Linked DNA regions of Homo sapiens. The protein of the gene in region 1 purifies or fractionates together with the protein of each later gene. This does not show direct contact. Each region holds a gene or a part of one and is shown in the gene's direction. Other genes may lie near its edges. The genes, in order: NUP50, KLHL7, RNGTT, SMARCC2, ARID2, KIFC1 and WDHD1.

Region 1 (3,500 bases):
ACAATTAAATGTCATGTCACCCACCAGAATGCTGAAATGCGGCTTTTCCTAAATAGTGGATTCAGTAGATCTGCTAAGCACTGGAGATGTATTGGTGAGTAAAAAAGACCAAAATCATCTTGCCCTATGGAAGAGAACAAATACATAGTATTAATTTTTCCTCTGTAAGTGCCATGGGGAACAGTAAAACCAATGAGGGAAATTGAGGGATGTGGGGCTGTGTCAGTGCCCATGGAGGAGCCCACATGGGTATTTTCCCTTTTTTTTTTTTTTTTGAGACAGGGTCTTTGTCGCCCAGGGTGGAGTGCGGTGGCACAATCTTGACTCTCTGCAACCGCCGCCTCCTGAGCTGAAGCAATCCTCCTGCCTCAGCCTCCTGAGTAGCTGGGACTACAGGCATGCGCCACCACACCCAGCTAATTTTTGCATTTTTGTAGACAGGGGGTCTCACTCTGTTGCCCAGGGTGGTTTCAAACTCCTGGGCTCAAGTGACCTGAATGTCTCGGCCTCCCAAAGTACTGGTATTATAGGCATGAGCCACCACACCTGGCCCCTTGATGAATATCTTAATCAACTTTTACTCTCATTTTTCTGAATATCTTTTTTTTGTTTAACTTGTGGTTCTTGAATTTTTGTTGTGATTCTAGAGCCAATTTACTATCAGCAATTTCTAAAATCCCTACAAGTGACTTTTAACTTTGTGCAAAATCGGAGGCTCTGAAAAGCCACTTAATGGCTTTATAGTTTGTCCATGAATCATTGTTTTAAAATGACAGCTATCAGTGTGGCGGGTTTGGAATTTTAAATGATGAAAAATCAAATGTAGAGCAACAGAATCTAAGCTCTGTTTATTATGTGCATTAAAACTCATACAAGTTACAATTTTCCATTCTTTGCCTCATTTTATTGCCTTAAATATATCAGTGGTCAGTAAACATCTGAAATTCTGTAGATGAGATTGAAACTTTGGTTTTGGAAAAACATGCAGTAATATTTAGGCTGACTGGCCCATTTAGTAAATGAAGGGGTTCCAGTTTAATTTTTTTTTTTTTCTGGTGAAATCATGGTTATAATTCACTCATGTGGAAACTTAAGATTTGTGAACTGTCTCTTAGATGTTCGGTCTAAGAAGCAGATCACTTCCTATAATGTAATCACTTCTTCGAACAACAACAAAAAAGGGCTTCTAAAAATTGTGGTGAGTTTATTTAGCAAAGCACTATAAACCGAGGAACCTTTCTCCAAAAGTTCCAGGGGCAGAGAGGAGCTTTAGAATTCATACGGAATGCCACACATTTCCAGAGCATCTTAGGTTAGAGATGTGAGCAGGCTAGCACAAAGGGAAAAGGCCTACTAGAAAAACCTTGTTAAAACAATCGAGTTTAAGGAAGCAGTGAGGAAAAGGAGAGTAAGAAGTTGTCCCGGGTTGTTCAGCTAACAGGAACATGTAGATTTGAGACTCGATCATCTAAGTTTTTGTAGGCTGAAAGCAGTTGCAAGCCACAGATGTTAAGAAATTAGGCAAATGGATATTTTTAGTTAACCTACCTTGATGTTTTTATCATTTCTTTAGGCAGTAAATGGTCTTTGACTGAGTAGTACATGAAGTATCTTTCATTTGGGATTTAGTTTTATTGAGCCGCTTCAGTAATTCTGAGGCTGGGTGGTGGGTACATAGGTTTATTGCATTAGTCTTTCTTACCTTTTATGTCCTAAAAATACACATAATATATTTTTTAAATGTCCTTCCTGCCTGTTTCAGGAAAGCAGCTTTGGGTTGCAAAGCTGTTCTTATGAATACAATCTTCCCATCTCATTTCTTATTTCTGCTTGTGCCAGCAGTTTGCCTTATAACGCTGACTGCATGTGGAGTCTAGGTGCTGTTTAGCCAAGATGCTGTTGTCACTCACTTGCTTTTTGGTAATAGAAAGTACACTTACCTAATGTGTGCTCCTCCTTCATACTTCAGTCTGACACTGGAGGAGCCTTTAAAGGTTTTAAAGGTTTGGTGGTACCTTCTGGAGGAGGACGCTTTTCTGGATTTGGTAGTGGCGCTGGAGGGAAGCCTTTGGAAGGACTGTCGAATGGAAACAACATAACCAGTGCCCCTCCCTTCGCCAGTGCAAAGGCAGCGGCAGATCCCAAGGTAGCCTTTGGTAAGTAGCTCCCATCCCCCAGCCGCCTGTGTAAGTATCATCTATGGAAAATAGCTTTACAAAGATGTTTTTCTTATAGCTACCCTGTGTCTTGGAACTGTGTGAGCAAAACCAGGGTGATAATGAAAGAGATGGAACTTAGGGAGGTGTCGGTTACTTACAGAGTAAGTGGGTAGAGCACAGGCTTTTGATCCAAAACATCTCAGCTTTGTTCTCAGCTCTGCTGGCTACCAGTTGTGTGACCCTGGCCTCTAGGCCTCAGAATGTTCAATTTTGAAAGGAGAGTGGCCCTCAGAATTGACCTAGAGTCGAGAGAGAAAAGAAAATGCTATGTAGACCCTTTGTGTGCCAAGGGCTTTCTGTGTGCCTCGCACCAAACTGGCTACTGGGAACTCAGATGCGGTTCTCCGTGGCCAGGGTGCCTCCCACGCTAGGTTTGTTTGGGTATGGGATGTGTTGATTGCCTGATCCTGTTTTGAGGGAGTCAGTCAAAAACTCTTGGAATTAGCAACAGAGAATAGGATCACGGGTTAAAAGCTTGGAAATGATCCTGACTGGTTGGGTTGTATTTAGCTGATTATTCTGAGAGTATATACTGTTTGATTTTAATTTGGCAGAATGTTTAGTGTGATGTAAAATAAGTGTTCTCTGTTAAGTTTTGTTGTTGTTGTTGTTTTTTCTAAGTTGGAGTCTTGCTCTGTCACCAGGATGGAATGCAGTGGCGCGACCTCTGCTCACTGCAGCCTCCGCCTCTGGGTTTAAGCGATTCTCCTGCCTCAGCCTCCCGAGTAGCTGGGACTACAGGCATGCACCACCATGCCCAGCTAATTTTTGTAATTTTAGTAGAGACGGGGTTTCACCATGTTGGCCAGGATGGTCTTGATCTCTTGACCTTGTGATCCACCTGCCTTGGCCTCCCAAAGTGCTGGGATTACATCCGCGAGCCACTGTGCCCGGCCTCTGTTAAGATTTTTAACTACAGCCATCCCCTAGTATCCTGGGGATTGGTTTCAGCACCCCCTTGGATGTTCAAGTCCCATAGTCAGACCAGCATAACTCTTAGATAGGAAAAGTGAGTGTTCGTATCCACTGGTTTCTCATCCCCAGAGTACTGCATTGAGACAGGGTCTCGCTCTGTCACCTAGGCTGGAGTGTATTGGTGTGGTCTTGGCTCACTGCAGCCACAACCTCCCGAGCTCAAGTGATCCTCCCCCATCAGCCTCCCCAGTAGCTGGGATTATAGGTACACACCACCACACTCAGCTAATTTTTACATTTTTTGTAGAGATGGGGTTTTGCCATGTTGCCCAGGCTGGTCTCAAACTCCTGAGCTCAAGCGATTTG
Region 2 (3,500 bases), on another chromosome or scaffold:
TCAAACATATGAATTGTTTGTTTCTGGAATTTTCCATTTAATGTTTTTGAACCACAGAAAGCAAAACCATGGATAAGGGGGACTACTCTAATTCCATTTTCCTACGCTTGTTGTGATTCAGAGGCTTTAAAGAAAGGGAAGAGCGCTGGTATAGGAGTGCTAGGAAAGCAGGGAGGAAAGAAAAGTAGAATGAAGGAAAGTATAAAGAGGGGTCAAAGAATCCAGTCAGTGCTAAGATATTTGACCCAGGAGAAAAGAAGAGGGGTGCTAAATGACAAGAACGCAAAGACTGATGCAAAGGGCTCCTGAAGATGCTTCAGAATTTTGGCAAGTCTCCTCTGTCCCTACTTTTTGTAGGCTTTCCTCCTTCCGGACACTTTAGTACTCCTTCCTGCATACCCCCTCACTGTGAGCACAGAGAGAGAGATCTTGGAAGGCAGGTGGAAAGCAGCAGAATAAATTTCAGGAGGAAGTAAAAGTCAGGTGAAGGGAATAAAAATGAGACTTAGCCTAATATCCAGAAAAGGGATTGGACTAGATGGAGCAGGAAGAGAAATAGCTATGCAGGTGAATATACTGAAGGAATTTTTAAAAGGTAGCCATGGGTCTACATATTGAAAAGATCCCTATATTAGAAAATAAAAGGCCAATCTCTAATCCTACCTGTACAGCAGAGACACTCTGGCATGAGTCCTTCCATCTCTTTGGGCCGTAATTGGGGCTTCACTCATCAATAAGATTTATATTCCTAAGACTTAAGGTTACTTCCATTATATAAATAATTATCTTCAGACAATACTATAAACGGGGAATTACCTTAATTAAGTTTTTGGAAATGATGGCTTATGTATGTTTCTATAACTCCCTAGCACTCTAAATTTCCTCCTGGGGTGATTCAACTACAAAGAAGAATGGCTGAAATATAGGTAGGTAGTAGATGTGGTGGTGCAAAGCATAGTGTGGAACCTGGAGTGAGTCTGTGCTAAGCACATCTTAGGCTTTGGGCTTCTGAGGAGACCATTTAGTAGTTTTGCCTCTGGATACCTTCTATCCTTACTGTTCACAAAGCTGGGAGGAAGGACAGCCCCGCCACCTAGAAAGTAGCCTGATTCCTGGCTAAGCTTCTGGCAAAGACAGTGGCCCAGCCAGGTGAGCCAAGTGCCATAGCCCAATAACTAGGGAAACTGCTTCTGCTTGCTTTCTGTTTAGCCTTGAGCATGGCTCTCAATGTCAGCTGATTGGATAATTCCTAGCTTAGTTTTCACCACCTGTCAATTCTCTGCTGCCCAGAAAGAGTCCATCAATCGAGCTTCCACAAATGCTAAAGGAACCGGTGGCAGCTGATGGAATCGGGCAAAGATCATGTAAAAAATTAAACCCAGTACCAGCCTGGCCAACATGGTGAAACCCCTCTCTACCAAAAAAATACAAAAATTAGCCGAGTGCAGGCGTGGTGGCACACACCTGTAGTCCCAGCTACTCCGGAGGCCGAGGCGGGAAAATCGTTTGAACCGGGAGGCGGAGGTTGCAGTGAGCCGAGATCTTGCCACTGCACTCCAGCTGCATGAGACAGTGAGACCCTGTCTTGGAAAAAACAAAAAAAAACAGTAGTTTGAGGAACAGAAAACCAAGCTAAACAGCCAAAATGAATGGCTCCTGTAAGGCAAATTTAATGTGAGAAATAGAAGGGAACAAATTAACCGGGCATGGTTGTGCGCGCCTGCAGTCCAAGCTACTCCAGAGGCTGAAGCGGGAAAATCGCTTGAACCGGGAGGCGGAGGTTGCAGTGAGTGAGCCGAGATTGCGCCACTGCACTCTAGGCTGGACTACAGAGTGAGACTCTGTCTCAAGAAAAAAAAAAAAAGCAAACTTAAAAATACGATGTGTAAAAATATGGTTTTACAGTTTTTTGACATTCAATTGAATTGAAAAATAGAATCGATACTCTTAAAACTCAAACCGAAGAAGATCAAACAGGAAGTTGCCTCATGATACGAAACAAAAATGCAAAGGAAGCCACTAGTGAGAAGATAAAAGAAAGGGAAGGAAGATACAGGAACTGCAGTGTGAGGTAGGAGTTCCAGAAGGAACAGATGGAGAAAGCAATAATCAAATAAGACTACGACTTCTTTGGGTTTAAAAAAAAAAAAAAAAAAAAAAAAAAAAAGAACTTTAACTTTCGGACTAAGTTATACTGAGTATTAAACCTGATCAATGAACTAAGATATTCCTCCCTCAGATATATTCTAGTGATATTTTTCACCTTCAAAGATCAAAAGAGAGCTTACATTTGGGGTGATAAAAATATTCTGGAACTAGATAGTGGTGACTGTGGTACAACATTGCAAATGTAGTAAATGTCACGGTAAGTTTTATGTGTATTTTACCACATTAAAAAAAAAAGTGACCCTACAGCTAGCAGGTCCCAAAAGAAACTCCCACACCCACTAGCAGTCACTCCCCATTCTTCCTCTGGCAGGCCTGGCAACCATGAATCTGCTTTCTGCCCCTATAAATTTGCCTATTCTGAGTGTTTCATATAAATTGAATCATACCAAAGGTGGCCCTTTGTGTCTGGCCTCTTTGAGCACAGTGTTTTTAGGGTTCATCCATATTGTAGCATTTATCAGTACTTCATTTCTTCTTATGGCTGAATAATATTCCATTGCATGGATATACCAAAATGTGTTTATCCATTTACTGATGGGTGAATGTTTGAATTGTTTCCAAGCCAGCACATTTTATAGAGGAAAAGGAAAGCACTGGTTAACTTGAACAAAAAAAAATAAAAGTGCTTTCTACCATCTGGGACCTTGGCTGTGGATCAGGTGAGTGCACAGGTCAGACGAAAGCCCTACAGTTGGCACAGCCTGGGCCTCTGTCCATGGTTGCAGGGGCATCTCCGCAGCTACTGCATGCAGTGATCATGGGGGCCCCAGACCTGGGCTTAGGCAAGGGCACTGTGTTGTTGTACATCACCAAACACTTCAAGCTGAGGCACCTCTCCAGCAGGGACTGCTCCAGGACAACATGCTACAGGGCACATAAATTGGTATGTTAGCCAAGGCTTTTCTTGACCAAGGGAAACTCATCCCAAATGATGTTACGACTCGGCTGGCCCTTCATGAACTGAAAAATCTCACCTAATATAGCTGGTTTTCCAAGGACACTGCCATAGGCAGAAGCCCTAGATGAGCTTATCAGATAGACACAATGATTAACTTGTATGTGCCCTTGGAGGTCATTTAAACAACACTTCACTGCTTGCTGTTCATCTAGCTAGTGGCCGAGTCGACTACATTGAATTCAACCGTCCCCAAACTGTGGGTATTGCTGATCTGACTGGGAAGCCTCTCATTCGGCCTGAGAATAATAGACCAGAGACACAGTTATCAAGAGACTGAAGACTTATGGAGCCAGTCCCAGAACTTTACCAGAAAAAAACAGGGATGTTGGAAACACTCTCCAGAGCAGAAACCAACAAGATTTAACGTCATGTT
Region 3 (3,500 bases), on another chromosome or scaffold:
ACTTCCTGATTTCAAAACATACTTCAAAGCATCTAATTTAGATGGCATACTTAATTACTGGCATAAAGATAGAGATACAAATCAATGGAGCAGAATAGAGAGCCCAGAAATAAATCATTGCATATATGGCCAAATGATTTGCCACAAGGGCGCCAATACTACACAATGGGAAGGGACAATCAATATCTTCAACTAACAGTGTTGGGAAAGCAATATCCACATGCAAAAGAATGAAGTTGAACCCCTACCTTACACCATATACAAAAATTAACACAAAAATAAAGACCAAAACATAAGACCTTAAACTATTAAACTTGTAAAAGATAACATAGGAGAAATCTTTTTTTTGGAGATGGAGTCTCCCTCTCTTGCCCAGGCTGGAGTGCAGTGGCACGATCTCAGCTCACTGCAAGCTCCGCCTCCCAGGTTCATGCCATTATCCTGCCTCAGCCTCCCGAGTAGCTGGGACTGCAGGCACCTGCCACCACGCCCGGCTAATCTTTTTGTATTTTTAGTAGAGACAGGGTTTCACTGTGTTAGCCAGGATGGTCTCGATCTGACCTCATGATCTGCCCACCTCGGCCTCCCAAAGTGCTGGGATTACAGGCGTGAGCCACTGTGCCCGGCCAGGACAAATCTTTAGGACATTGGATTAGGCAATGATTTCTTGTGTGCAACACCAAAATCATAGGCAACAAAATAAAAAATAGACAAAGAGGACTACATCAAAGTTAAAAACTTATGTACATCAAAGGAATCAATCAGCAGTGTGAAAAGGCAGCCTACAGAATGGGAGAAAATAATTGCAAATTGTACATCTGATAAGAAGTTAATGTCCAGAATATATAAGGAACTCCTACATCTCAACAACAATAAACAACCCAATTAAAAAAATTGACAAAGTTTCTTGTATACTGAAGAAAGTATACTGAAGAAAGTATACAGCCAATAAGCACATGGAAAGATTCTCAGTCATTAGTGAAATGCAAATCAAGACCACAATGAGATAGCACCTGACACCATCAGGATGGCCACTATGAAAGAACAAAAAGTTTAAATTAGAGCACAGTAAACAATGGGCGTCAATTTTTTTTAAAAAAAAAAGGAACAAAAACTAACAGGTGTTAAGGATGTGACATTGGAACCCTTGCATACTGTTAGTGAGAATGTAAATTGATGCAGCCATTATGGAAAACAAAGGGGTCCTCAAAAGATTAAAAATAAAATTATGATCCAGTGATACTGCCTCTGGGTGTATAGCCAAAATAATTTAAAACCGGATCTCAAAGAGATATTTTCACACCCACGTTCTTTGCAACATTATCCAAAATAGCCAAGAGGTAGAAGCAGCCCACGTGTCCATTGACAGATGAATGGCTAAAGAAAATGTGGTGTATACATACAGTGGAATATTATTCTACCTTTAAAAAGAAAGAATTTCTGTCACATGCTACAACATGAATAAACCTCAAGGACATTATGCTAAGTGAAACAAGCCAATCACAAAAGGACAAATAGTGTGTGATTCTGTTAATACTCGTATGAAGTATCTAAAGTAGTCAAAATCATAGAAACAGAAAGTAGAAAGGCAGTTATCAAGGTCTGGGTAGAGGGGAAGGGGGGCAATTAGTGTTTAGGGAGTATAGCATTTCAGTGTTGCAAGATGGAAAAGTTCTAGACATACACTTAGCATTGCTGAACTGTACACTTAAAAATGGTTAAGATGGAAAATTCAATGTTTTTTTACCACAGATTTTAAAAAGCAATGTTTCATTGCCTAATTTTATATTTGGTTAACAATTTTACTGATTGTTCTATGTCCCAGGCACTTTCAATTATTATTCTTTCAGTGACCCAGTAAATTAGGAACTTGTTCCCCATTTTAGAAATTAGGAAATAGACACTGAAAGGTTTAGAAACTTATTTCTGTTAGACCTTACATGTGGTATAGCAAAACTGTGTTTACCTAACTGAATGAGTTGTCCAATACTTGCATATACACAGTGTTTCCAAAATAAAAGAATGGGTCCCTAGAAAGCAAGGCAAGAGAATTGAGACTAAAATAATGAATATTTGAGGATAAATTTGGCAAGTTTGCTACTTGGAATATCACTTTTTTGGGCATGTCTAGTTCCAAAACCACTGAGTGTATTGCACCTGTTGGATTTGTTGAAAATGCAGATGGTACAATCAAATGTAAAGGGAAAGGAATATAGTTTGAAAGTTTTTATGAAGACATGTGCTGCCTAATCTGCGAATTGAAAGCATCTTTTAAAAACTTACTTCTCGTCATATTCCTAGGTGGTAGTGAATATGTGGGTAGAAAAATGAGAATGTTTCAGATAATGCTAATGAAGTTAAATGATTGCAGTCTACCATATTGTGAGGAAAAGTTGTTAGCCATGAAAGATGAGGACAGAATTAAAATATTACCATGACTGGCATTTGATTTGAAAACTACAAAGATAAGCTTAGGTTCCTATTTATGAAAACCATTCTCACAGCCCAGTGAAATATCTTTTAAAAGGTTCGTAGTTACCATGGATACTTGTTAGCTTTGATAGAGTATCCATATTCAGTCATCTGAGGTGAAGAAGCCAAAAAACCCATCAACTAATGTCACAAATAGCTTCATCTGTAAATTTGTACTAGTTTGGGGATGGAAAGGCTAAGTTTCCTGAAGATTAGATTGTTGGTTAATTGTCACTGCTTGGAAAGCAAAATATTTAGGATGTACATTGCCTGAATTTGATCCTAGTATTCACTATTGATATGTAACTTTTTCATTTAACTAGTACACGGCATTTCTTAGATTTTAACATAGGAATTTAGATGGTTAGACCTTTCTGAAAGTTGATGAAACCTAGGCAGTATACTCAATTTCTGAAAGCCGTAGAGACACAGACAATATTGAAGGTATTGGTCCCCATGGTAACATATTTGCATTTGGCCCAGCATGGCTGGTTTCTGCCTAGCTTCTTTTAATTGCTATATATTGACAGCCATTTTCACAATTATTTATAAAATGTCGGATAAGTGAGCATGTGTACAAGGGAGTGCACACCATACCTTAAGCTTGATTAGATACTTCAGATGACAAAGAGCTCTCTGCATGAAGAGTTACTGAGGTATTTTTATCATTTCCTAATGTGCCTGTCACATAGTAGAAGCAAAAAGCCTTTCAAGTTATTTAAATATTTTCCTCAATTCTCTTTCAAAACAGGTGACAAAAGAGCTGAAACAGTATGACAACAAAATTATAGAATGCAAATTTGAGAACAACAGCTGGGTCTTCATGAGACAGAGAACAGACAAAAGTTTTCCTAATGCCTACAACACTGCCATGGGTGAGTATGACAACTTACCAGTGCTTATTATATTTAAAACAAAAATTAAGGTGTTAGACCCAAAGTGTGCTGCCTTTGTTGTTTTGCTTAATGGGGCATAGTCATTTGGACTTCATCCTTGTTTGATGGGAAAGATACGTCAAGTCTGTATTC
Region 4 (3,500 bases), on another chromosome or scaffold:
TTTTGAGATGGAGTCTCACTCTGTTGCCCAGGCTGGAGTGCAGTGGCACAATCTCGGCTCACTGCAACCTCCACCTCCCAGGTTCAAGCGATTCTCCCACCTCAGCCTCCCAAGTAGCTAGGATTACAGGCACGTGCCAGCATGCCCGGTTAATTTTTGTATTTTTAGCAGAGATGGGGTTTCACCCTGTTGCCCCAGGCTGGTCTCAAACTCCTGGACTCAAGTGATCTGCTCGCCTTAGCCTCCCAAAGCGCTGGGATTACAGGCATGAGCCATCACACCTGGCCAAAATAATTTAATTTTTTAAAAAGGCTGGGCGCAGTGGCTCACGCGTGTAATCCCAGGACTTTGGGAGGCTGAGGCAGGTGGATCACCTGAGGTTGTAAGTTTGAGACCAGCCTGGCCAACATGGTGAAACCCCATCTCTACTAAAAACACAGAAATTAGCCGGCGTGGTGGCGCATGTCTGTAATCCCAGGTACTGGGGAGGCAAAGGCACGAGAATTGCTTGAACCCAGGAGGTAGAGGTTACAGTGAGCTGAGATCATGCCACTGTACTCCAGCCTGGGCAACAGAGTGAGACTGTCCCAAAAAAAAAAAAAGAAAAAAGAAAAAAGACACGGTGGCTCACGCCTATAATCCCAGCACAAAAAAGTCAAGCCCTTTCACCATGGGTTGTGACCACAGCAAATTTGTTCTTATACCTGCCAGCATCCACCCTACCTTTCTTCTGTATTGTCTTCAGTTGGGTCCTCCCACTGATGTGCTGTCTCGCCCCTCCTTCCCTAGCACTTGGCTGCTGTTGAGGAAAGGAAGATCAAATCTTTGGTGGCCCTGCTGGTGGAGACCCAGATGAAAAAGTTGGAGATCAAACTTCGGCACTTTGAGGAGCTGGAGACTATCATGGACCGGGAGCGAGAAGCAGTGAGTAGCAGGAGCCCTGGAACCCTGCTGCGCTGTGCCTCAGTTTAAAATCGGAGGGGCGTGTGTGTGTGTGTGTGTGTGTGTGTGTGTGTGTGTGTGTGTGTGTGTTTCAGTGAAAGAGAGATAAGCAACAGTGGGGAAAGCCTGAGTGTGTGTGTGTGTGTGTGTGTTTCAGTGAAAGATAAGCAACAGTGGGGAAAGCCTGAGACAGACAGGGCTTCAAAGCAGAGCAGGGCAGGAACAGGGCAGGAGTAGGGCAGCCAGTTAGAGACAGTTAAGTGGTCTCACAAGTGAAGTCTGGGGACTGAAGTCCCACAGAAGGTCAGCTCCATGAGGCAGGGACTCTAGTTGGTTGTTTTGATTGCTGCATCTCCAGGTCCTTGAACAGTGCTTGGCCCATAGTAGACTCAAATAGTGATTGAGTGAATGGGCGTAACGGATGATGAGAGAGAGGGTAAGAGCCTCAGATCCAGGAGGTGAACTTGGAAAGGGAATGGGACCGACACAGTGTTGAACCATTTTGTCTTTGGAGGACATAAAAAGAAATAGACAATAGGGACTGGGCACAGTGGCCCACATTTGTAATCCTAGTACTTTGGTACACTGAGGCAGATGGATCACTTGAGCCCAGGAGTTCAAGACCAGCCTGGGTAACATAGTGAGATCTCTGTCTCAACAATTTATTTTATTTATTTATTTATTTATTTATTTGAGACAGAGTTTCGCTCTTGTTGCCCAGGCTGGAGTGCAATGGTGTGATCTTCGCTCACCACAACGTCCGCCTCCTGGGAAGCGATTCTCCTGCCTCAGCCTCCCCAGTAGCTGGGATTACAGGCATGTGCCACCATGCCCAGCTAATTTTGTATTTTTAGTAGAGATGGGGTTTCTCTATGTTGGTCAGGCTGGTCTCGAACTCCCGATCTCAGGTGATCAGCCCATCTCTGCTTCCCAAAGTGCCGGATTACAGGTGAGTCATCACGCTTTTTTTTTTTTTTTTGAGATGGAGTCTTACTCTTTCGCCCAGGCTGGAGTGCAGTGGTGCAATCACGGCTCACTGCAACCTCCGCCTCCTGGGTTCAAGCGATTCTCCTGCCTCACCTCCCGAGTAGCTGGGATTACAGGCACATGCCACCATGACCAGCTAATTTTTGTATTTTTAGTAGAGACAGGGTTTCACCATGTTGGCCAGGCTGGTCTCAAACTCCTGACCTCAGGTGATCCGCCCACCTCAGCCTCCCAAAGCGCTGGGATTTCAGGCATGAGCCACCGTGCCCAGCCCAAACATTTTTTAAAAATAAACAAATTAGCCGGGCGTGGTGGTGCGAGCCTGTGGTCCCAGCTACTCAGGAAGCTGAGGTGGGAGGATCGTTTGAGCCCAGGAGGTCAAGGCTGCACTGAGCCATGTTTGCCCCATTGCATTCCAGCCTGGGTGACAGAGTGAGACCCTATCTCAAAAAAAAAAAAAAGAAGAAAAAGAAATAGAAGATAGGGACCTCAGAGAACTTAAGGTTTAATGGGAGACATCAAATGAATATACAATATGGAGACATCAGAAACAGTTAAGAAGGTTTAAAGTATCTGACAAATTCACATTAAGAGATTGCACATCAGCCGGGCGCGGTGGCTCACACCTGTAATTCCAGCACTTTGGGAGGCTGAGGCAGGTGGATCACGAGATCAAGGAGATCGAGACCATCCTGGCTAACATGGTGAAACCCCGTCTCTACTAAAGAATAAAAAAATACAAAAAATTAGCCCGGCATGCTGGCACACACCTGTAATCCCAGCTACTCGGGAGGCTGAGGCAGGAGAATTGCTTGAACCGGGGAGGCGGAGGTTGCAGTGAGCTGAGATCACGCTACTGTACTCCAGCCTGGGTGACAGAGTGAGACTCAGTCTCAAAAAAATAAAGAGATTGCACATCAAGTTTCTAAGTCCTGAGATCATAGAATAAAGCTAAAGCTCAGAGGCAAATGAATTGATCTGGGATAGCTTCCTAAGAACAGTGACTTTTTAGTGAATTTTGAAGTAAGAAAAGAACTTGAATTGACAAAAGGAACTGGAAGCATTTTCCAAATCAAGGTAATGGCAAGTTCAAAGCTTTGTAGCTGAAGTGAGCTTGGGCCAGGTTAAAGTCATTGCAATAAGAAACCATGTGGGCACTCAGGAGACATAAAGGTCATGGGAATTTGCACGAAGTCGGGTGGGGAGGACAGAGGGAGCACAAGCACAAGATGTAGATTTTGGGAACCTTCTGATTGAGAGGCAGGCTCTTTCAGAAGAAGACAAAGCAGGGGTTGAGGCATTTGCCTTTGGGATCTGCTGAAAATTGGATAACAATACTCAATTGGCACTGGCAGCTGGAGTATCAGAGGCAGCAGCTCCTGGCCGACAGACAAGCCTTCCACATGGAGCAGCTGAAGTATGCGGAGATGAGGGCTCGGCAGCAGCACTTCCAACAGATGCACCAACAGCAGCAGCAGCCACCACCAGCCCTGCCCCCAGGCTCCCAGCCTATCCCCCCAACAGGGGCTGCTGGGCCACCCGCAGTCCATGGCTTGGCTGTGGCTCCAGCC
Region 5 (3,500 bases), on another chromosome or scaffold:
CATTTAAGACCCTACATGCCTAAAAATGTCTGTAATCTACCCTTACTCTTGATAGTTGTTGGCTGTACATAACATTCTAGATTGAAAAATCATTTTTCTTTAAAAACCTGAGGGCATTGCTTTGGTGTATTCTAGCACCAGCTTTGCTGTTGAGAAGACTAGTGACATTCTGGTTCCCATTTCTTTGTATGTGATCTGTTTTCCCCCCTCTAGAAACTGTTGTGATCTCTTTATTTCTGAATATTCTGAGGTTTCTTGATGATGATGTGTCTTCGGTGGGTGTTTTGTTGTTGTTTTCATTGAAGTCATTATTTCATTTTGGTGGGTCCTTTCAATCTGGAGATTTATATCCTTCAGTAATGGGAACTTTTCTGGTATGTTTCTTTTTCTTTTCTCTTTTAGCTTTCTGTTTTCTCTCTGTTTAATCTATTTTTTGGAAATTTCCTTAATTTTTTTTTTTTTTTTTTTTTTTTTTTTTTTTTTGAGACAGAGTCTCGCTCCGTTGCCCAGGCTGGAATGCAGTGGCACGATCTTGGCTCACTGCAAGCTCCACCTCCCAGGTTCACGCCATTCTCCTGCCTCATCCTCTGGAGTAGCTGGGACTACAGGCGCCCACCACCATGCCCCGCTAATATTTTGTATATTTAGTAGAGACAGGGTTTCACCTAGTTAGCCAGGATGGTCTCGATCTCCTGACCTCGTGATCCGCCCTCCTCAGCCTCCCAAAGTGCTGGGATTACAGGCATGAGCCACCACCCCCAGCCGGAAATTTCCTTAATTTTTAAGAGCTTGTTATTGGTTGCCAGTTGTTACTATTTTATAACATCCTGTTCTTAGTGGTGTCTTCTCATCTCTCTGAGGATATTAACACCTCTACTTTTGTAGTTTTTTCCCAATCTGTGTATGGTTACTCTTTCCTTGTAATTCCTCAAATTTCTGAGGATTTGGGGGTTTGCTTATCCTCCGCCCCCCAAGACAAGAGTCTTGCTCTGTTACCCAGGCTGGAGTTCAGTGGGGCCATCATGGCTCACTGCAGCCTCCAACCTCCTGGGCTCAAGTGATCCTCCCACCTTAGCCTCCTGAGTAATTGGGACCACAAGCATATGCCACCATGCCCAACAGTTCATTTTTTAATTTTCTGTAAGGTGGGGGGTGGGGGAGGGTGTCTCACTATATTGCCCAAGCTGGTCTTGAACTCCTCAACTCAAGTGATCCACCTGCCTCGGCCTCCCAAAGTGCTGGGATTACAGGCGTGAGCCACCACGCCTAGCAAAAAATAAATTTCTTTTACCCTTCGTACTGTTTTGAGGAGGGAATGGAAAGAAACTTGTTTAAACTTGTTTTCTTAGAAGCTGATTTGTATCCTAAATGGTTTTTACTAGTGTTGCTTAGAAATTATTTTTATTATCTGTTAAGGATATTAGAGTGACCCAATATTTATTCTTTGTTAAATCATCTCAAAAAACTAACATGTGAATTTAGAAGTTGAAAGAATATCATTTTATAAAAAAACAAATTAGGCATGTTTTGTTTTATATCAAAACAAAGTGAGTGCTTAATTTTTTAAAACCTCAAAAAATTAAACATTTATATCAAAAAGGAAATTATTAGTTACTTTAAAATCATCCTAGTGATTTCAGTTTATTCTTTCTAGTTTTATCCATGCAATATTCAAATAAAAGAATACTTTTTAACATGTGACTATCACTTTGAAAAATATGATTTTGTTAACTTTTTGAAACTAAAGTCTTTTTTCTTTCTTTGTTAAAATATTCATTGATTGTGGGGAAAAACTGATTGTACTTTGTAAAGTTATTTTTATTTTGTAAATTTTTTTTTTTTTTGAGATGGAGTCTCGCTCTGTTGCCCAGGCTGGAGTGTAGTGGTGCAGTCTCGGCTCACTGCAACCTCTGCCTCCTGGGTTCAAGCGATTCTCCTGCCTCAGCCTCCTGAGTAGCTGGGATTAGTAGCCTCCCAAGTAGCTCCTGCCACCACGCCCAGCTAATTTTTTGTATTTTTAGTAGAGATGGGGTTTCACCATGTTGGCCAGGCTGGTCTCGAACTCCTGACCTCGTGATCCGCCTGCCTCAGCCTCCCAAAGCGTTTTGTAAATTTTTAAATCAATTTTTGTACAACTAATTTTTCTTTTCCAGAAAGATCTTAGAAATTTCATACTTTATTTTAAAAGTTGTTAAATAAAATTTTAAAGAAAATCATAAAGATTTTATAAAACAGAAGTGTAAAGTTCAGTGAATTATCACAAACTGAACCACTCATATAACTATCTGTCCAAGTTAAGAAATAGAGCAATATCAGTTGAAATCTTTCATGTTCTCTCCAATCTTTACTCCATCCTCCTCTCTATAAGGGACCACTATCCTGATCTGTGACACCAGAGGTTCATTTTGCCTGATTTTGAACTTTCTATATGTGAAATCATACAATATTATTTTCAGCATTATATTTTTGAGATTGATTCATGTTGTTGCATGATAGTATTTTATTCATATTATTGTATTTTTTTCTCTGCTTTTGATGGGCAAATGGGTTATTTCCAATTTGGGGCTATTAAGAGTAATGCTGCTATAAACATTCTAAACCATATTCTGTTTTTTGGCCATATACGGAACATATTTCTGTTGAGTGTTTTCAAAGGATTGGTGACTCATAAGATGTTAAAAGTTTGCTACATGATGCCAACCAATTCCAAAATGATTTTATCAATTGACACTCTATAGAAATGTATGAGAGTCTCAGCTACTCCATGTACTTGCCAACATTTGGTATTGTAATTAAAATGTTTAATTTTATCCACTCTTTTGAGTGTGTGATGGTATGTATATATGGAAACTACATAAAACTGAAATGGCCCAAAAAACATGAAAAGATGCCCAACTGTTTATTCTTCAGTCTCATTTTTTGCTCATTTCTTTTCCTTTGCTTTACTATAGTAAAAGTGACTCCAGTCCCTACATTAAATTTTGATTTTGAATTTTTGCATCTTTTCCATAAACTTCTTTTCTACAGTGTTTTTTAATTCAAAATGTACGTGTCTTCATCTTCTCTTTTTTTCTCCTGTAGTTTCTTTTATTCGGAGTTATTTTAATGAAGGCACCAAGGTTCCTGGGTAATCTCATGCTGGCTGATATTTTTTTTTAACATTTAATATAAAATTTTTCACACATAGGCAAATTTGAAATGTTTGCAATGAAATTTTTTATACCTGCCACCTAGCTATTACCATGAATATTTTAGTATACTTGCTTTATCACATATCTGTCCATTTATCCATCCCACAGTTCTGGGTGATTTTTACCATTTTTCTCAGCCCCCAGCATCCCTTTTTTTTAGCTAGATGATGCTCACTTTTATAATCTCTCATTATATAGATAGCCACATCAATATTGTGATCTTTTGGGTAGAAAATTTAAGATTGATAAGTTTTTAGAAAACAGCTTTTATGGCTAATGGGGCATTTAGGATATAGTTAAGCTAGATGT
Region 6 (3,500 bases), on another chromosome or scaffold:
GGCCAGACAGGCAGTGGCAAGACCTTCACAATGGAGGGTGGGCCTGGGGGAGACCCCCAGTTGGAGGGGCTGATCCCTCGGGCCCTGCGGCACCTCTTCTCTGTGGCTCAGGAGCTGAGTGGTCAGGGCTGGACCTACAGCTTTGTAGCAAGCTACGTAGAGATCTACAATGAGACTGTCCGGGACCTGCTGGCCACTGGAACCCGGAAGGGTCAAGGGGGCGAGTGTGAGATTCGCCGTGCAGGGCCAGGGAGTGAGGAGCTCACTGTCACCAATGCTCGATATGTCCCTGTCTCCTGTGAGAAAGAAGTGAGGACCCATGGGCACTGGAACTGGGAAATGGGGAGGAGTGGGCAGGGTGCCACGAGATGGAGGTAGAGGGAGAAAGGAGCAAGAGAGAATTGAAGGATGAAGTGCAAGTTATCAGGCTGGGTTACCACATCCGGTTTTGGCCTGTGGGCTGTCGGTAGATCTGCCTTAACCTGGGAGTGGCGAGGGAGTGATGCATCTGCCAAAACGAGGAGGGTCACTACATCTCATGTCTCATCTTCTTGCTCAGCTCATCCTAGCCATGCTGGCCTCCTGGCTGTTCCTCAACCAGCTAGTCGTGCTCCCCATCTCAGGGCCTTTGCCTGGATGCTCTTTCCTGGAGATCTTGGCTATCCTGTCAAAACTTGTGTTCCCCACCCCGCCTTTATACACTCCCTATTCTATGTATTCCTTACCATTTTCAGACATACTGTGCATCTTATTTTGTTTCTTGACAGGCTAGAAAGCTTCAAGAGGGTGGGGGTGGGCTCTTATTCATTTCCATACATATTACTATGTACTGACTTCTGCCTGCCTTTTTGCCCCTTCTGCTCCCATCCCCAGGTGGACGCCCTGCTTCATCTGGCCCGCCAGAATCGGGCTGTGGCCCGCACAGCCCAGAATGAACGGTCATCACGCAGCCACAGTGTATTCCAGCTACAGATTTCTGGGGAGCACTCCAGCCGAGGCCTGCAGTGTGGGGCCCCCCTCAGTCTTGTGGACCTGGCCGGGAGTGAGCGACTTGACCCCGGCTTAGCCCTCGGCCCCGGGGAGCGGGAACGCCTTCGGGAAACACAGGCCATTAACAGCAGCCTGTCCACGCTGGGGCTGGTTATCATGGCCCTGAGCAACAAGGTGGGAATGGGAGTGGGGTGAGATACGGGACCTGGGGGACAGTTGGGGTTGGCTGTGCAGAACCCTGCCTATTCCTAAACATCTGTCCCCACCTCAATCATCTAGGAGTCCCACGTGCCTTACCGGAACAGCAAACTGACCTACCTGCTGCAGAACTCTCTGGGTGGTAGTGCTAAGATGTGAGTGAAAGGGACAGATGGAAGGGGTCAGGTAGGAACTGTGTTGGGGTGAGGGGTAGAAAGGGGAACAGTGGAGACCTGTCCAGGCTCTGCTGGCCCCTAATGCTGGGGTTGGGCACATTGTCTTTTCATAGGCTCATGTTTGTGAACATTTCTCCACTGGAAGAGAACGTCTCCGAGTCCCTCAACTCTCTACGCTTTGCCTCCAAGGTGCGATTACCACCCGTCAGCCTTGTCAGGACCCGTGGGTGGTTGTAGGCTTCTCCATTCCAATCCCTTTTGTCTTCTAGGGCAGGGAGCACATTTGTGCAGAAAGGTTTTGCAGGTATCTGAGGCACTGCTCACCTGGTTCCATTTTTAATTATTAGCTTTTGAGTTAAGTTTTTTAAAAAACGGGTGATTAATTTAACCTGAGAAAGCTGATTAAAAAAAAAAGAAAAGGTGACTAAAAGGTCTAAACTGGTTGGGCGTAGTAGCTCATGCCTATAATCCGAACACTTCGGGAGGCCAAGGCAGGAGGATTGCTTGAGCCCAGGAGTTTAAAATCAGTCTGGGCAACATAGTGAGACCCTGTCTCTACAAAAAATAGGAAAATTAGCTGGGTGTAATGGCTCACACCTGTAGTTCCAGCTACTCAGGAGGCTGAGGTGGGAGGATCACCTGAACCTGGGAGGTGGAGGCTGCAGTGAGCCGTGATCCTACCACTGCACTTCAGCCTGGGTGACAGAGTAAGACCTTGTCTCAAAAAACCAACACACAAAAAATCCCTAAGATTCCTCCCTATCAGCATACAGAGATCATTATTTTTAGGTCTGCCTAGACTCCACTATGTAGCTGCACCAAAATTTATCCACCAGTTCCCTCTACTGGACACTTGGATTGTTTCCACACTTTTTTAGTCACAAACAAGGCCACGTTGACTAACTTTGTACATACATCATTTTGTATTTTTCAGTTACATCTAACTAGGGAAATAGTCCTTGAAATGGGATTACTGGATCAAAGACTTAGAGGTTTTTCAGACTATTCCAAATAGTGTGAATTCAGACTCCAAACCTCATGAGGGTCAGCCAGTGGCTATATGAATTCTCACTAATGAGAATTCCTTCCACTAGAATCTCCTTCCACTAGTGTTAAGCAAGTCAGAAAGTTTCCTTACTGTCTGCCTCCACAGTAATTTTTTTCTCTGGTACACCCTCCTCCTGCGCGTATAGCCCTTTGATGGGCTCTGGCTTTATTTGAGGTCTGATCAGGTCTGTCCTGCTGTGCGCTTGGGCCTCCTCCCAGTCAGCACTGATTGTTGCTGTGGAGTAGCCAGCACCTGCACCCTGATCTGGTATTCTACTTTGATGAGGGTTTCCCTCACTATCTTGCAAGTTCAATTTTAGAGGGTGGTGATGTTTTTTCTAACTTTTTATTAATGTTATACCAATGTAACATCCAACAACATGAACTTTAATATCCTCTAATACCCAGTTTATGTTAAATTTCACCCAACTGTCTCAGAAGTGTCTTTTATACATAATAGGTTTGTTCAAATCAGGATCCAGGCAAGGGCCACCCACTTGGTTGAAATGTCTCAAGTTCCACAACCCTATCCCACACTGCCACTATTATGTCGTTTGTTGAAGGTCATTTGTCCTATAGAATATACTATTCTGGATTTTGGCTGGTTGCTTCCTCTTTCCCCCATACTTTCACTTATTTATCATATTTGGGTGTTGTCAACCTGACCCATCCATTTACAAGCTCCTTATTGACTTTTTCACCTAGTGATTTTATCCAGCAGTGACCATACCTGGATCTTTATTTCATTAAGGGGTTTCTAAATGGGGATTTTTCTAATCTTAGTTGTTCTGCATTGGTTAGTCACGATTCTTTTATGAAGACATTTGCCTTGCCATCTACTTGGTTTCTCTGAAATTCAATTCATACAGGAAAAACAAGATAAATGCTGAATTATTTATTGATTTTCAGTATTGAGTTGATATCCTAGCAGCTTCCAAAGGTGACCAATGAATGTTTATCTGAGGGTTATTTTTATTTTTATTTTTTTTGAGACAGGGACTTGCTCTGTTGCCCAGACTGGAATTCAGTGGCTCAATCATAGCTCATTGTAGCCACCAAAAGTGTTGGGATTATAGGCGTGAGCCACCC
Region 7 (3,500 bases), on another chromosome or scaffold:
CATAATATTTATTACTGTGAACTTGGATGAAGTCACCTAGGGAAGGAGTAAATATAGGTAAGAAAAGAGGTTCAAGGATACTCCAAAATATTTAGAGATCAAGTTAAAGAGGATCCAGCTAAGGAGACTAAGAAAGAGTAGCTAGAAAAGTAGAGAACTGAAAGACAAGAAGGATGTTTAGAAGCCAAATGAAGTGTTTGAGGAACAGGAAATAATAGACTCTGTCAAATGCTCCTGGTGAGTCAGGTTGAAGACTGAGAATTCACCATTAGATTTAGCAATGTGGAGGCCATTGGCAAGTTTTATGGAATGGTAAGAATGAAAACCTTGAAGTGGATTCAAGATAATGGAAGGGGAGGAATTTGAATTAGTGAGGTTGACACTACGTGGTTTTGATTTTGTCTCTAGTACCAGTGGGGTATAGAAAGTAATCAGTCACTACTTAAGAGGGCTGAAGAGGAAGCAGTGACCCCAGAAGAATGACCAGAAAGAAAGCTGAGTATATAGAGATTTTGCTTGTGCCTCACCATGAACCTCATGAGACTCAATGATTAAGAGTCAAGAAGAGGTGGTCAGATTAGGGAAGGAATGTTGCTCTCTGAGGATAGAGTTGAGGTAGTAAGAAATGCGTTGGTAATCATTGACTCCTTGAGGTTATGTCATAAAGCTGATGAAGTCTTGATATAATTAATCTTCATGCCCAGACACTGATAGCGGATTTCTTTTTTGTTGAGATGGAGTCTAGCTCTGTCGCCCAGGCTGGAGTGCAGTGGCACGATCTCGGCTCACTGTAACCTCTGCCTCCTGGGTTCAAGTGATTCTCTCTCCTCAGCCTCCCAAGTAGCTGGGATCACAGATGCCCTCCGCAACAGCTGGCTAATTTTTGTATTTTTAGTAGAGACAAGGTTTCGTCATGTTGGCCAGGCTAGTCTTGAACTCCTGACCTCAATTGATCCACCAGCCTTGGCCTCCCAAAGTGCTGGGGTTACAGGCATGAGCCACCACACCCCGCCTTACTCTTTATTATTTTAAAGTAAATCCCATACATCTTATAACTAAAATCTGGTTTATTGGGGGTAGAACCTAGTAGAACAATGCTTTAGCAAGAGTCATGAATCAAAAAAGAGAAGGCACAAATAAAATAATATTAGAGATAAAAAAGGTACAATATAGGCTTCAAAATACGTGAATACATTGACACCCTTATGCCAATAGTTTTGAAAATTTGAAACAAAGGTATAATTTTCTAGGAATATGTAAATTAACAACTTACCCAGTTTACCTAAGAAAAAAATAAAAATATTTATTTACATTGATTATCCAAACATTAAACATATGATCTAAATGTTAACATATGTAAGATAATCATTTCTGGTACATATTTATGTGCTTTAATCAGTTTCTTAGCCTGTCTGTCCCATGGTATTGCTGATATTTTTCTGAAAAATATATTTTTAATACAGTGTTATTTTAATTTTTCTCATAAAAAATTAGCTGTAGCCTTGTTTAGAGTTGCATTTTATGCTGAATAAATTTGAAGTTAAATCTTCAATTCTTTTCTTTTTTTTATTTGTTTGAGTCAGAGTTTCACTCTTGTTGCCCAGGCTGGAGTGCAATGGCACCATCTCGGCCCACTGTAACCTCTGCCTCCCAGGTTCAAGCAATTCTCCTGCCTCAGCCTCCCAAGTAGCTGGGATTACAGGCATGCGCCACCATGCCTGGATAATTTAGTATTTTTAGTAGAGATGGGGTTTCTCCATTGTTGGTCAGGCTGGTCTCGCCTCCCAAAGTGCTGGGATTACAGGCGTGAGCCACCATGCCTGGCCTAGACTATAATATTTTTTAATGAGAAAAATGTTAGGTTCTAAGGTACTTGGCAGGCTCAGAGCAAATTCTACTAGCTGGGAGAGTCATAATTTTTAAGAATTTGTTTTAATTGAAATGGGTAAATACTTCAGCCTCAGTATTTTTATAGGTTCTGTCTTTTTATCTCCATTCAGGGTACACTTCTTCAATAATAGGGTCTTCACTGTTTTTAAGGACAAAATTCATCAAGTTGTCTATGATTCTTTTGGATGTTTCACAGATTTTAAGCCTACTCTTTTATTTCATTCTGGCACAGAACATAAATTAATACAATTAAAAATAGGAGTTCTATCAAAATATTCTTCCCACAAGTCAAGATATTCCAAAGTACAGTTACAGAATTTTAAAATGAAATCATTCACCATTTCAGCTTTTCATGTACAATTTGTTCAATTCTTATTTGCTTTTGTAGGGATAAATTTCAGTGTCTTCCTGTGCATAAGTTTTGTTTTCATGAATTGCATTTCACTAAAAGCTTCAAAAGCTTAAGTTTAATGCTTTGATTAAAGATGTCTGTTTTCAACTAAATGCAACTAAGATTTAGAGGACTTGTTTCTAATAATAATAATACCATTATTACAGTAGGACACTTAGGTTGTTTTACAGAGTCGCTCGCTCTTCAAAGGCTTAAAGATTTTAAAAACCCAATCACTCCAAGCAGAGGGAGAAAGTATGTCCTGCAATGCTAGTATTTTTTGTGTATTTAATTAACATCGGTTTGTGCGCTGCTGAGGTGGGAGGATTGCTTGAGGCCAGGAGGTCTAGTAGTTTTTCTGTATATCACATTGATTTGTGTGCAGCTGAGGTGGGAGGATTGCTTGAGCCCAGGTCAAGCCTGCAGTGAGCCGTGGTAGGGCCACTGCACTCCAGCCTGGGCAACAAAAACAGAAACAAAACATGTTTTTTTCAAAAATTCTGTTGTTCAGCAATTCTAGATATAAATAAAATCTGAAAATTTGACAAGTATGGCTTCTTTTTTGTTGGTGTGTTATCTTGCAGCTCATTTGGATAGAATCATGAATTGTAATTCCAAATTCAAGTACTTTTGTGTTTCACAGATTTCCTAATATAGTAAGAACATTGATTTTTCTGGCTGGGTGCAGTGGCTTACGTCTGTAATTCCAGCACTTTGGAAAGCTGAGGTAGGTGTATCACTTGAGGTCAAGAGTTCGAGACCAGGCTGGCCAACATGGTGAAACCCCATCTCTATGAAAATACGAAATTTAGCCAGGTGTGGGTGGTGCGTGCCTGTAATACTAGCTACTTGGGAGGCTGAGGCAGGAGAATCACTTGAACCTGGGAAGTGGAGGTTGCAGTGACCCGAGATGGTGCCACTGCACTCCAGCCTGAGCAACAGAGCAAGGCCCTGTTTCAAAAAGAAAAAAAAAGAATATTGATTTTTCCTACAGCACTGTAGAAAACAATAAAATTAATATGTAGTTATTTGATACAATAAAGGATAAAACCATTTAGAAGAATGTTTAGACTACTCTAAAAGCACTTCTTTCGCAGGACTGCTGAACGCTATTTCCTGCCAAAGTTTGTATTTGTATTACTGTAAAAATTAAGAATTTTATCATTAGTGTTAAACTTTTCAAATAAATTTAGATAGAATCCCCACTGATGTCAGATAT

What was found.
Region 2: the proteins of NUP50 (region 1) and KLHL7 purify together in Homo sapiens (affinity purification with mass spectrometry; 4 studies listed by BioGRID and IntAct, with this or other methods). This does not show direct contact.
Region 3: the proteins of NUP50 (region 1) and RNGTT purify together in Homo sapiens (affinity purification with mass spectrometry; 3 studies listed by BioGRID and IntAct, with this or other methods). This does not show direct contact.
Region 4: the proteins of NUP50 (region 1) and SMARCC2 purify together in Homo sapiens (affinity purification with mass spectrometry; 3 studies listed by BioGRID and IntAct, with this or other methods). This does not show direct contact.
Region 5: the proteins of NUP50 (region 1) and ARID2 purify together in Homo sapiens (affinity purification with mass spectrometry; 4 studies listed by BioGRID and IntAct, with this or other methods). This does not show direct contact.
Region 6: the proteins of NUP50 (region 1) and KIFC1 purify together in Homo sapiens (affinity purification with mass spectrometry; 4 studies listed by BioGRID and IntAct, with this or other methods). This does not show direct contact.
Region 7: the proteins of NUP50 (region 1) and WDHD1 purify together in Homo sapiens (affinity purification with mass spectrometry; 3 studies listed by BioGRID and IntAct, with this or other methods). This does not show direct contact.

The regions. Positions count from the first base shown.
Region 1 is NC_000022.11:45,173,925-45,177,424, forward strand, and holds part of NUP50 (nuclear pore complex protein Nup50), read left to right. Parts: intron 1-1,969; coding exon 1,970-2,156; intron 2,157-2,317; exon of another isoform or gene 2,318-2,458; intron 2,459-3,500. UniProt on the Homo sapiens protein: Component of the nuclear pore complex that has a direct role in nuclear protein import. Actively displaces NLSs from importin-alpha, and facilitates disassembly of the importin-alpha:beta-cargo complex and importin recycling.
Region 2 is NC_000007.14:23,126,285-23,129,784, forward strand, and holds part of KLHL7 (kelch-like protein 7), read left to right. Parts: intron 1-3,500. UniProt on the Homo sapiens protein: Substrate-specific adapter of a BCR (BTB-CUL3-RBX1) E3 ubiquitin ligase complex. The BCR(KLHL7) complex acts by mediating ubiquitination and subsequent degradation of substrate proteins. Probably mediates 'Lys-48'-linked ubiquitination.
Region 3 is NC_000006.12:88,614,119-88,617,618, reverse strand, and holds part of RNGTT (mRNA-capping enzyme), read left to right. Parts: intron 1-3,223; coding exon 3,224-3,347; intron 3,348-3,500.
Region 4 is NC_000012.12:56,165,484-56,168,983, reverse strand, and holds part of SMARCC2 (SWI/SNF complex subunit SMARCC2), read left to right. Parts: intron 1-789; coding exon 790-924; intron 925-3,284; coding exon 3,285-3,500. UniProt on the Homo sapiens protein: Involved in transcriptional activation and repression of select genes by chromatin remodeling (alteration of DNA-nucleosome topology).
Region 5 is NC_000012.12:45,900,706-45,904,205, forward strand, and holds part of ARID2 (AT-rich interactive domain-containing protein 2), read left to right. Parts: intron 1-3,500. UniProt on the Homo sapiens protein: Involved in transcriptional activation and repression of select genes by chromatin remodeling (alteration of DNA-nucleosome topology). Required for the stability of the SWI/SNF chromatin remodeling complex SWI/SNF-B (PBAF).
Region 6 is NC_000006.12:33,405,323-33,408,822, forward strand, and holds part of KIFC1 (kinesin-like protein KIFC1), read left to right. Parts: coding exon 1-309; intron 310-873; coding exon 874-1,164; intron 1,165-1,269; coding exon 1,270-1,343; intron 1,344-1,477; coding exon 1,478-1,553; intron 1,554-3,500. UniProt on the Homo sapiens protein: Minus end-directed microtubule-dependent motor required for bipolar spindle formation. May contribute to movement of early endocytic vesicles. Regulates cilium formation and structure.
Region 7 is NC_000014.9:55,017,100-55,020,599, reverse strand, and holds part of WDHD1 (WD repeat and HMG-box DNA-binding protein 1), read left to right. Parts: intron 1-3,500. UniProt on the Homo sapiens protein: Core replisome component that acts as a replication initiation factor. Binds directly to the CMG complex and functions as a hub to recruit additional proteins to the replication fork.